Regions from separate parts of the Homo sapiens genome. Here all the other regions are linked to region 1. Evidence: fine-mapped expression QTL. A gene starts in region 1. Each other region holds a variant in brackets. All regions are shown on one strand. Distances are from middle to middle.

Region 1 (2,757 bases):
GAGATGGGCAGATAGCTTGAGTTCATTCAGGAGTTCCAGACCAGCCTGGCCAAAATGGTGAAACCCTGTCTCTACTAAAAATACAAAAATTAGCCTGGCATGGCAGCACATGCCTGTAATCTCAGCTATTCCGGAGGCTGTGGCAGGAGAATCCCTTGAACGCGGGAGGCAGAGGTTGCCATGAGCCAAGATCTCACCACTGCACTCCAGCTGACAGAGCAAGACTCTGTCAAAAAAAAGAAAGAAAAGAAAGAAAAAGAAAGAAAGAAAGAAAGAAAGAAAGAAAGAAAGAAAGAAAGAAAGAAAGATGTAGAAACACATGAAACATGAAAAAGCAAGGAGCACAACACCTCCAGAAGAACACAATAATTTCCAGTAACAGATGCCAATCATAAGAAAAAATACAAAGTTCTGGCTGGGCGCGGTGGCTCACGCCTGTAATCCTGGCACTTTGGGAGGCTGAGGCGGGCAGATCATGAGGTCAGGAGATCAAGACCATCCTGGCTAACACGGTGAAATGCTGTCTCTACTAAAAATACAAAAAAAAAAAAAAAAAATTAGCTGGGTGTGGTGGTGGGCGCCTGTAGTCCCAGCTACTCAGGAGGCTGAGGCAGGAGAATGGCGTGAACCCGGGAGGCAGAGCTTGCAGTAAGCCTAGAGATGATTGCGCCACTGCACTCCAGCCTGGGCGACAGAACGAGACTCTGTCTCAAAAAAAAAAAGAAAATATACAAAGTTCCAGAAAAAGAATTTAAAATAATAATCTTAAGGAAACAGTGGAATTCAAGAGCATACAGTTACACAATTCAATGAAATCAAGAAAATTCATAATTTGAATGAGGAATTTAACAGAGATATAAAAAAGAACCACACAGAAAACTTAGAACTGAAGAATCCAATGAATTAAATGAAAAATACAATCAAGACTCTAACAACAGACTAGATCAAGCATAAGAAACAATTTTTGGGCCAGGCGTGGTGGCTGACGCCTGTAATCCCAGCACTTTGGGAGGCCAAGGTGAGTGGATCACCTGAGGTCAGGAGTTCGAGGTCAGCCTAGCCAATATGGTGAAACCCTGGTCTCTACTAAAATTATTAAAAAAATTAGTTGGGCATGGTGGCGGGCGCCTGTAATCCCAGCTACTCGGGAGTCTGAGGAGGAGAATCGCTTGAACCCGGGAGGCGGAGGTTGCAGTGAGCCGAGATCGCGCCACTGCACTCCAGTCTGACGACAGAGCGAGACTCGGTCTCAAAGAAAAAAAAATTTCCGCTCTATAACTTCACTTTTAACATTGTTTAGTTTTTCTGTTTTGTTTTTGTTTTGAGAGAGAATCTCGCTCTGTCGCCCGGGCCGCTCCGGACTACATTTCCCAGGAGCCTCGGCGCGCACTTCCGTTTCCGGCCCCTTTCTCTGGAGGATCTCCGCGCGTGGCGAGTCTGTGTCCTCCCTGTCCCCCAGAGCAGACACCCTCTCTGTGTCTGGACCGGGGAGGAGCAGACGCTGGACAGGGTGTGTGTGTTCAGCAGTGGATTGTCAGACTTGGGGTCCCGGCTGCTCCCTTTTGGGTCTCTCCCCGGGCCCGCTGATCTGACTGTAATTCCTTCTGCTGGAGCTAGGGTTCGGCCACCTTGACGCGCCCCCTCTGCCCCTGGAGCGTGTCTTTGGGTTTTGTGTGTGTGGGAGTGGGGTGTATGTGTGTTTCTTATCCGAGACACCTCTGGGTCGTTTGCTTGGAAACCGGCTGAGGGCCCGCATACCCTGGAGCATTTGGTTGCAAAGTGAGGCAGGTAGCGCCCAAGGCTCCTGTACCAGGGCCAGGTTAGGCACCAACGCGTCCCTTATGTCTCTGCAGCCTGCAGTGTGGTGGAACCGTTTCATAGACTGAAGTGTGAACGTAGGAGGGGATGGATATCAGAGATCTGTTTATCCACATTTTCAGAGAGTGGTATTGCTCTGATGTGAGCGTAGGCAGGTTACTCTCTGTGTCTCGTGTTCTTTACCTGTAATTTGAGGTTTGTTGTACCTACTATTAAGTGGTGGTTGTGAGGATTAAATGGAATTTTGACATGCAACAGTTGACACAGGGCCAGACACCAAGTAAGGGATCAATCAGTTGTTGCTTTTATTAATAGTAGGCATCCATCTGCCCATTTGCACGTAAGAAGGAAACACCCAAGAATGAAAAGTAGCTTGTTGTAGGTCACCCAGCCAACTAGCACATAGTGGAAATTAGAATCCAGGCACTCCCAGCAGGGCACTTTCCACCACCCTGCACTTTTGTATTCATCAGGCACAGTATCCTTACTGTTGTCTGTAACTGTCTATGTTCCCAGTGTCTGACTCTGCAGGGCCCTAGTGGTATAAAGGTACTGAGACTTGCCTGTGTTCAGGGCTTCCTGAAGATTAAATGGCTGCCGAAGTTCTTGAGTTTAGCTTTAGCTCAAAAGATACTGCGTCAGACTCTGCGTTCTGAGTAGAGTCTCAGAGAATGAAAAAAGAAATACAATGAAAAAGGGGAAAACTTCAATCCAGAACCTCTTACCACAGTTTCTGGTAGAATGCTGGCAATTTCCAGGAAGATACGTGGAGAACGGAAAGGTTGCTACACCCAAATAGTGAAGCAAAGGCTATGATTATGGAGGATTGGACCTGCAAACTCCAGAACAGAGGTAAGAAATAGAAATAAAGGGTCCTGCCATTAGCCAAGAATCTGCAGTATGCACACACAACCTCATTTTAGTTTTTCTTTACAGCAA
Region 2 (2,757 bases), 33 kb after region 1:
GATCAAATCTCAGCATGAGGTTTGTGGGAACAAGTGTCTCAACTATAACACCATGTCTAGGAATGTTTCGTTAAGTGGGCAAAAGGGCTGTTAACCTGAAGGGAGCATTCTGTGGAAGGAGACAAGTCTTCCCTGACCCTCCTGATCTCCACTGAGTACCCACGTGATGTTCATCTCCACGAGTGTGACGGACATTACTGGAATGTTCAGGAAGATGATATGGAAAAGTCAGCATCAGAAGTATGCATCCTGGCTGGGCACAGTGGCTCATGCCTGTAATCCCAGCACATTGGGAAGCCCAGGCAGGCAGATCACCTGAGGTCAAGGGTTCGAGACCAGCCTGGCCAACATGGTGAAACACTGTCTCTACTAATAATACAAAAATGAGCCAGGCGTGGTGGTGGGTGCCTGTAATCCCAGCTACTCAGGAGGCTGAGGCAGAAGAATCACAAACCCAGGAGGCGGAGGTTGCAGTGAGCCAAGATCCCACACTGCACTCCAGCCTGGGCGACAGAGTGAGACTGTGTCTCAAAAAAAAAAAAAAAAAAAAAAAAAAGGTGGGCACCGTGGCTCACCTGTAATCCTAGCACTTTGGGAGGCCGAGGCGGGTGGATCACGAGATCAGGGGTTCAAGACCAGCCTGGCCAAGATGGTGAAACCCCGTCTCTACTAAAAATACAAAAAAAAAAAAAAGAAATTAGCCGGGCACGGTGGCAGGTGCCTGTAATCCCAGCTACTCGGGAGGCTGAGGCAGGAGAATCACTTGAACTCGGAGGGCGGAGGTTGCAGTGAGCCGAGATCACACCACTGCACTCCAGCCTGGGTGACAGAGTGAGACTCTGTCTCAAAAAAAAAAAAAAAGAAAAGAAAAGAAACATGCATCCTATTCCTAGCTGCCTCATGTCCAGTTCTATGAGATGGGAGTAGATGAATGGCTGTCCTGGTGTTGAAGTCCTTACATTTTACTTCTCTTTAAAAATGAAAACAAAAAAAAATGTCGCTTGTCAGACCACACAAAGCCACACAGGCTTATAACAGAGCTCAGGAATCTTCTGTCCTTTCCAGAGCAGGCACAGAGACACGTGGTCTTCAGCAGAGCCTATGGGGTTCAGATGATTCACATAAGAATAGAAGTTTCAGGGCTGGACCTGGGGAGGCAGCCTGAGCCTGAGCCGGCTGTCCTGAGCCTGAGTACTCTAGCTGCCTTGTCGTCATCGCATCTGGCTGCCATCCAGCGCCAGCACACAGTAATGAGTGGCCGAGCTTCCTCTGGGAGGGAGGAAACAGTTAAAATCTTGCAGCAGCTGCAATCATCTAGGCGTGGTTCTCTTGTCTGACTTGGGCTGCACAGATCCTGGGCCAAGGGACAG[A/G]AGAAAGACAGCCTAGGAGCAGAGCCTCCCAGATGGCTGAGTTGGATCTAATGGCTCCAGGGCCACTGCCCAGGGCCACTGCTCAGCCCCCAGCCCCTCTCAGCCCAGACTCTGGGTCACCCAGCCCAGATTCTGGGTCAGCCAGCCCAGTGGAAGAAGAGGACGTGGGCTCCTCGGAGAAGCTTGGCAGGGAGACGGAGGAACAGGACAGCGACTCTGCAGAGCAGGGGGATCCTGCTGGTGAGGGGAAAGAGGTCCTGTGTGACTTCTGCCTTGATGACACCAGAAGAGTGAAGGCAGTGAAGTCCTGTCTAACCTGCATGGTGAATTACTGTGAAGAGCACTTGCAGCCGCATCAGGTGAACATCAAACTGCAAAGCCACCTGCTGACCGAGCCAGTGAAGGACCACAACTGGCGATACTGCCCTGCCCACCACAGCCCACTGTCTGCCTTCTGCTGCCCTGATCAGCAGTGCATCTGCCAGGACTGTTGCCAGGAGCACAGTGGCCACACCATAGTCTCCCTGGATGCAGCCCGCAGGGACAAGGAGGTGAGTGCTTGGGGACCATTCATCCATTTGGGAGAGGGCGGTGGGGGATGGTGTGCCCAGCTGGCTGCAGCTGCTAGGTCCACTGACGCCACTACTATGCTCTGAGCATACCTGAAAAAGACTAGCTTCAGCGTCTGCCTGCTGGGTCAGTGTAAATATACATTGCACTTGGTTTTGGAAACTGTGTGGAGTAGGTTGCTCCGTCCCCATCTCTGTCCCACTGTCTCTGTGCGATCTCTGTCTGTGTCTGTCTCTCCTCCTTCTTGCTAGTTTCCTGCTGTGCCTTATACAGCTTTTGGTGATGTGTGTTTGGGTGGAGGGTGCAGAAGTTGTGGGGGCTTAGGGCGGTGATATGTCCCTGTGGCTGGATCTGCATGGCACATCCATTGTCAATTAATGAAATAAAACCTTGGCAGAAATTCAAGAGAAAAGAACAACTCTTTCTCCCAGTTTCTCTTTTTCTCAAACAAGAGACCAGTAGAATGGGCCCCTCTGGAGATAACAGGAAATCTAAGAGCTTGAAAAGTGCTAAGATAGCAGAGAATTTGAAACTTAGGTCCAGGTATAATGTCACAGGTGGCTTAGGGATAATAAAAGTTCCTCACCAGATGGAGGTATCAGGAGAGACTAAGAAACATCATGCTCATAGCCTGTCATTTTATTTCCATCGGATAAGGAAACTGTTTCTAGAACAAGTCGTTTTTCTTTGCCTAAAGCTAGATCCTGGAGAAGTTCCTGGAAATTGGTTTGGCACCTCATATGCTTTTTTCCTTCTACTTTGACTTTCAGCGAACACTTTTAGTTTTCAGTCGGGAAGTGTAGTTGACGTTTGCCCC
Region 3 (2,757 bases), 38 kb after region 1:
GAGCCTTGTCCTAGATCTTTGGAGAACATTAATGCCAGGCCACGATGCTGAACCTCAGCATCAGTCCCAGAAAGTTCAGGACTGGATGCTGGCTGCAGACACAGTCTCCATGGTGAGCAAGAGCCAAGTATCTAGAGCCAAAAGTATCCACGCTCATCTGGGGAGCGGTTAACTGGCATCACTCACAGCCTGTTTGCTGGCAGCCGAAAGGTGGATGATAGGTGTATGTGGCCACTTGGGAAAGGAATTACTTGGGCCGGGCGCGGTGGCTCACGCCTGTAATCCCAGCACTTTGGCAGGCCGAGGCGGGTGGATCACCTGAGGTCAGGAGTTTGAGACCAGCCTGACCCATGGTGAAACCTTGTCTCTACTAAAAAAAAAAAATACAAAAATTAGCCTGGCACAGTAGCAGGCGCCTATAATCCCAACTACTCAGGAGGCTGAGGCAGGAGAATCGCTTGAACCTGGGAGGTGGAGGTTGCAGTGAACCGAGATCGCGCCATTGCACTCCAGCCTGGGTGACAGAGCAAGACTCCATCTCAAAAAAAAAAAAAAAGAATTTATTTCAGCCATTTTGGGGAATGCCCAGGACTCAGTATTACGTAACTTGTTTTTCTTATTCTCCCAGGCTGTAAGTATTTTGAGAGGGGGCAGTGTGTGTCCTATGTGACTGAGCTGGCCATATGTACTATGGTGAATTCTGAGCAGCTGACCGAGGCATGCAGTCAGCGTCCAGGTGGACTCTAGTTCTTCCTTCTCTAGAAAGGCTAACCCTGTGTGCTTGGAATACAAAGGAACTGGCACAGTCTGGGATTTTCTTCTCTCTTCCCACTCTCCCTGTTCTTTCTATTTTTCATCTCTAACATGACCTGGCTGCCACTCTTTGTGTGCCACCTTTGCCCTGTAGCAGAAGGAACCCTTCTGTTAGCATATTTAGGTAGTCTTGCACCAGATGAGAAGCTAAATGGCTTGAATGACTTGACAAAGCCTATATGGCCAGCAAGTGGCAGGTCCCAAAATATTTCGGACTCCAAATAGTGTGCCTTTGACACATCTGTCATTGTCTTGCTGAAGCAGGCAGAGCTCTGTGTGCCCTGCCTTCCAGAACTTTCTGTGCTCATGGGCACCACAGTCCCGCTTCTGGGCAGGGCCCACCCTGACCTGAGATGTGTGTGTGGCTGACCTCTTGGGAAACCCTGAAGCCAGTGTCTGAGGCACCCCATCATTTTCAAGGAACAGGAATAACTGGAGAAACAAGTCTTTCAAAGTGG[T/C]TCCACCTTTTGAGGTAACTGGGAGTGCCTTTTCTTGGGGTGACTCAGTCAGGAAAGTCCCCGATTATGTACTTAAGGAGTCCTTTTCTCTCCTTTTATGGTAGTCTGCAAATAGCAGAGAGAAGCCCCTCACTCTCGATGCTCCCTGGGTACCTCCCTATGGCCCCGCTGCTGCCGACTGCTTCAACACATTCTTCTGTCCCTGCTGTTTAGATGCCGTGTTGTAGGAGCCTGTTGCTAGGGTGTGTTCTGATGTGTCTTCCACCACCTTTAAACAAGCAGCTCATGTTCCTTTTCTCTCCCCTGGAATGGGTCACTGTGTAAGCCTTTTTCATAGTTCAAGATTCCAGGATTGCCCCCAAATAGGCCAGATCCACCCCCACTCCCCACTCCCAGGCATCACGTCTCAGGTATCAAGGGTGAGAGGTCACTGGGGCCCCCTCAGCTCCACTCTCAGTGACCTGGAGCCTGAGCAAACATTTCCTGCCTTCTGCAGTGTCCTGGAGAGGCGAGTCCTCTGCCTGCAGCTGCTTCCCTCCCCAGGGGGCCTGGAATTCCCCCAGTCTTCAGTGGAGAATGGAGAGACAGTTTATGCTCTCTGAGTTCTATTAGGGCATAATGACTCGCAGCTTTAAATGCAGACAGAAGCTATTAAGCAGTGAAAGCGATTCTTTTTTTTTTTTCTTTTTCTTTTTGTATATTGCCCTTGTGGAAGTAGGAAAGTGACAGGGTCTTTGAGGTTTGCAAAGGCTTAAGTGCGCCTTGGCACACCTCTTGGCAGAAGGTGTTTAGTGCATCCCAGGAGGCAAGATTGAAGCTGGGGCCAAAGCAGGCAAACCTGAGGTTTTTGGGCAGGCACTTGCCTGGGCTGGGAGGGCTGGCTCTGCCTTCGAATACAGAACATGAATGGAAAGCAGCCATGGTAGCAGGAGTAATAATGATGATGATGACGATGCTGGCACCCACTGACATTTATGGAGCTCATTAATAATGTCCCTGGTACTATACAAAGTTCTTATTGACATACGTTATCTCGTTAGTCCATTCTTTCCTAATCCTATGAAGCAAACACTTTACTGAGCCCCATCTCACAGGTGAAGAAATGGAAGTTTAGAGATATTAAGTTGTGAAATAAGAAACAGGCCAGGCACGGTGGCTCATGCCTGTAATCCCAACAGTTTGGGAGGCCAAGGCAGGCGGATCACAAGGTCAGGAGTTCCAGACCAGTCTGGCCAACATAGTGAAACCCTGTCTCTACTAAAAATACAAAAATTAACCGGGTGTGGCGGTGTGTATCTGTAATCCCAGCTACTCAGGAGGCTGAGGCAGGAGAATCGCATGAACCCGGGAGGTGGAGGTTGTAGTGAGCCAAGATTGCACCATTGCACTCCAGCCTGGACGACAGTGTGAGACTCCATCTCAAAAAACAAACAAAGAACAACAACAACAACAACAAAAACTTAGGTTTGGTCTCTGCCCCCATTTC

Evidence for each region.
Region 2: its variant is fine-mapped to the expression of TRIM16 in whole blood (TOPMed, PIP 0.98).
Region 3: its variant is fine-mapped to the expression of TRIM16 in whole blood (TOPMed, PIP 0.96).

The regions. Positions count from the first base shown.
Region 1 is chr17:15,682,949-15,685,705 of GRCh38, reverse strand. It overlaps TRIM16 (tripartite motif containing 16), which reads left to right and starts at 1,395. Exons shown (of 12, transcript NM_001348119.1): 1 at 1,395-1,510; 2 at 2,549-2,670; 3 at 2,755-2,757.
Region 2 is chr17:15,650,255-15,653,011 of GRCh38, reverse strand. TRIM16 (tripartite motif containing 16) reads left to right here. Exons shown (of 12, transcript NM_001348119.1): 7 at 1,066-1,921. The coding sequence starts at 1,403. Among named protein-coding and RNA genes, the nearest start is that of FBXW10B, 32 kb to the right of the region's middle. RefSeq lists an enhancer at 1,154-2,103. The variant A/G (reference allele first, on the strand shown) is at 1,371.
Region 3 is chr17:15,644,769-15,647,525 of GRCh38, reverse strand. All of the region lies in intron 7 of TRIM16 (tripartite motif containing 16), which reads left to right. Among named protein-coding and RNA genes, the nearest start is that of FBXW10B, 26 kb to the right of the region's middle. RefSeq lists enhancers at 1,459-1,548, 2,363-2,757. The variant T/C (reference allele first, on the strand shown) is at 1,272.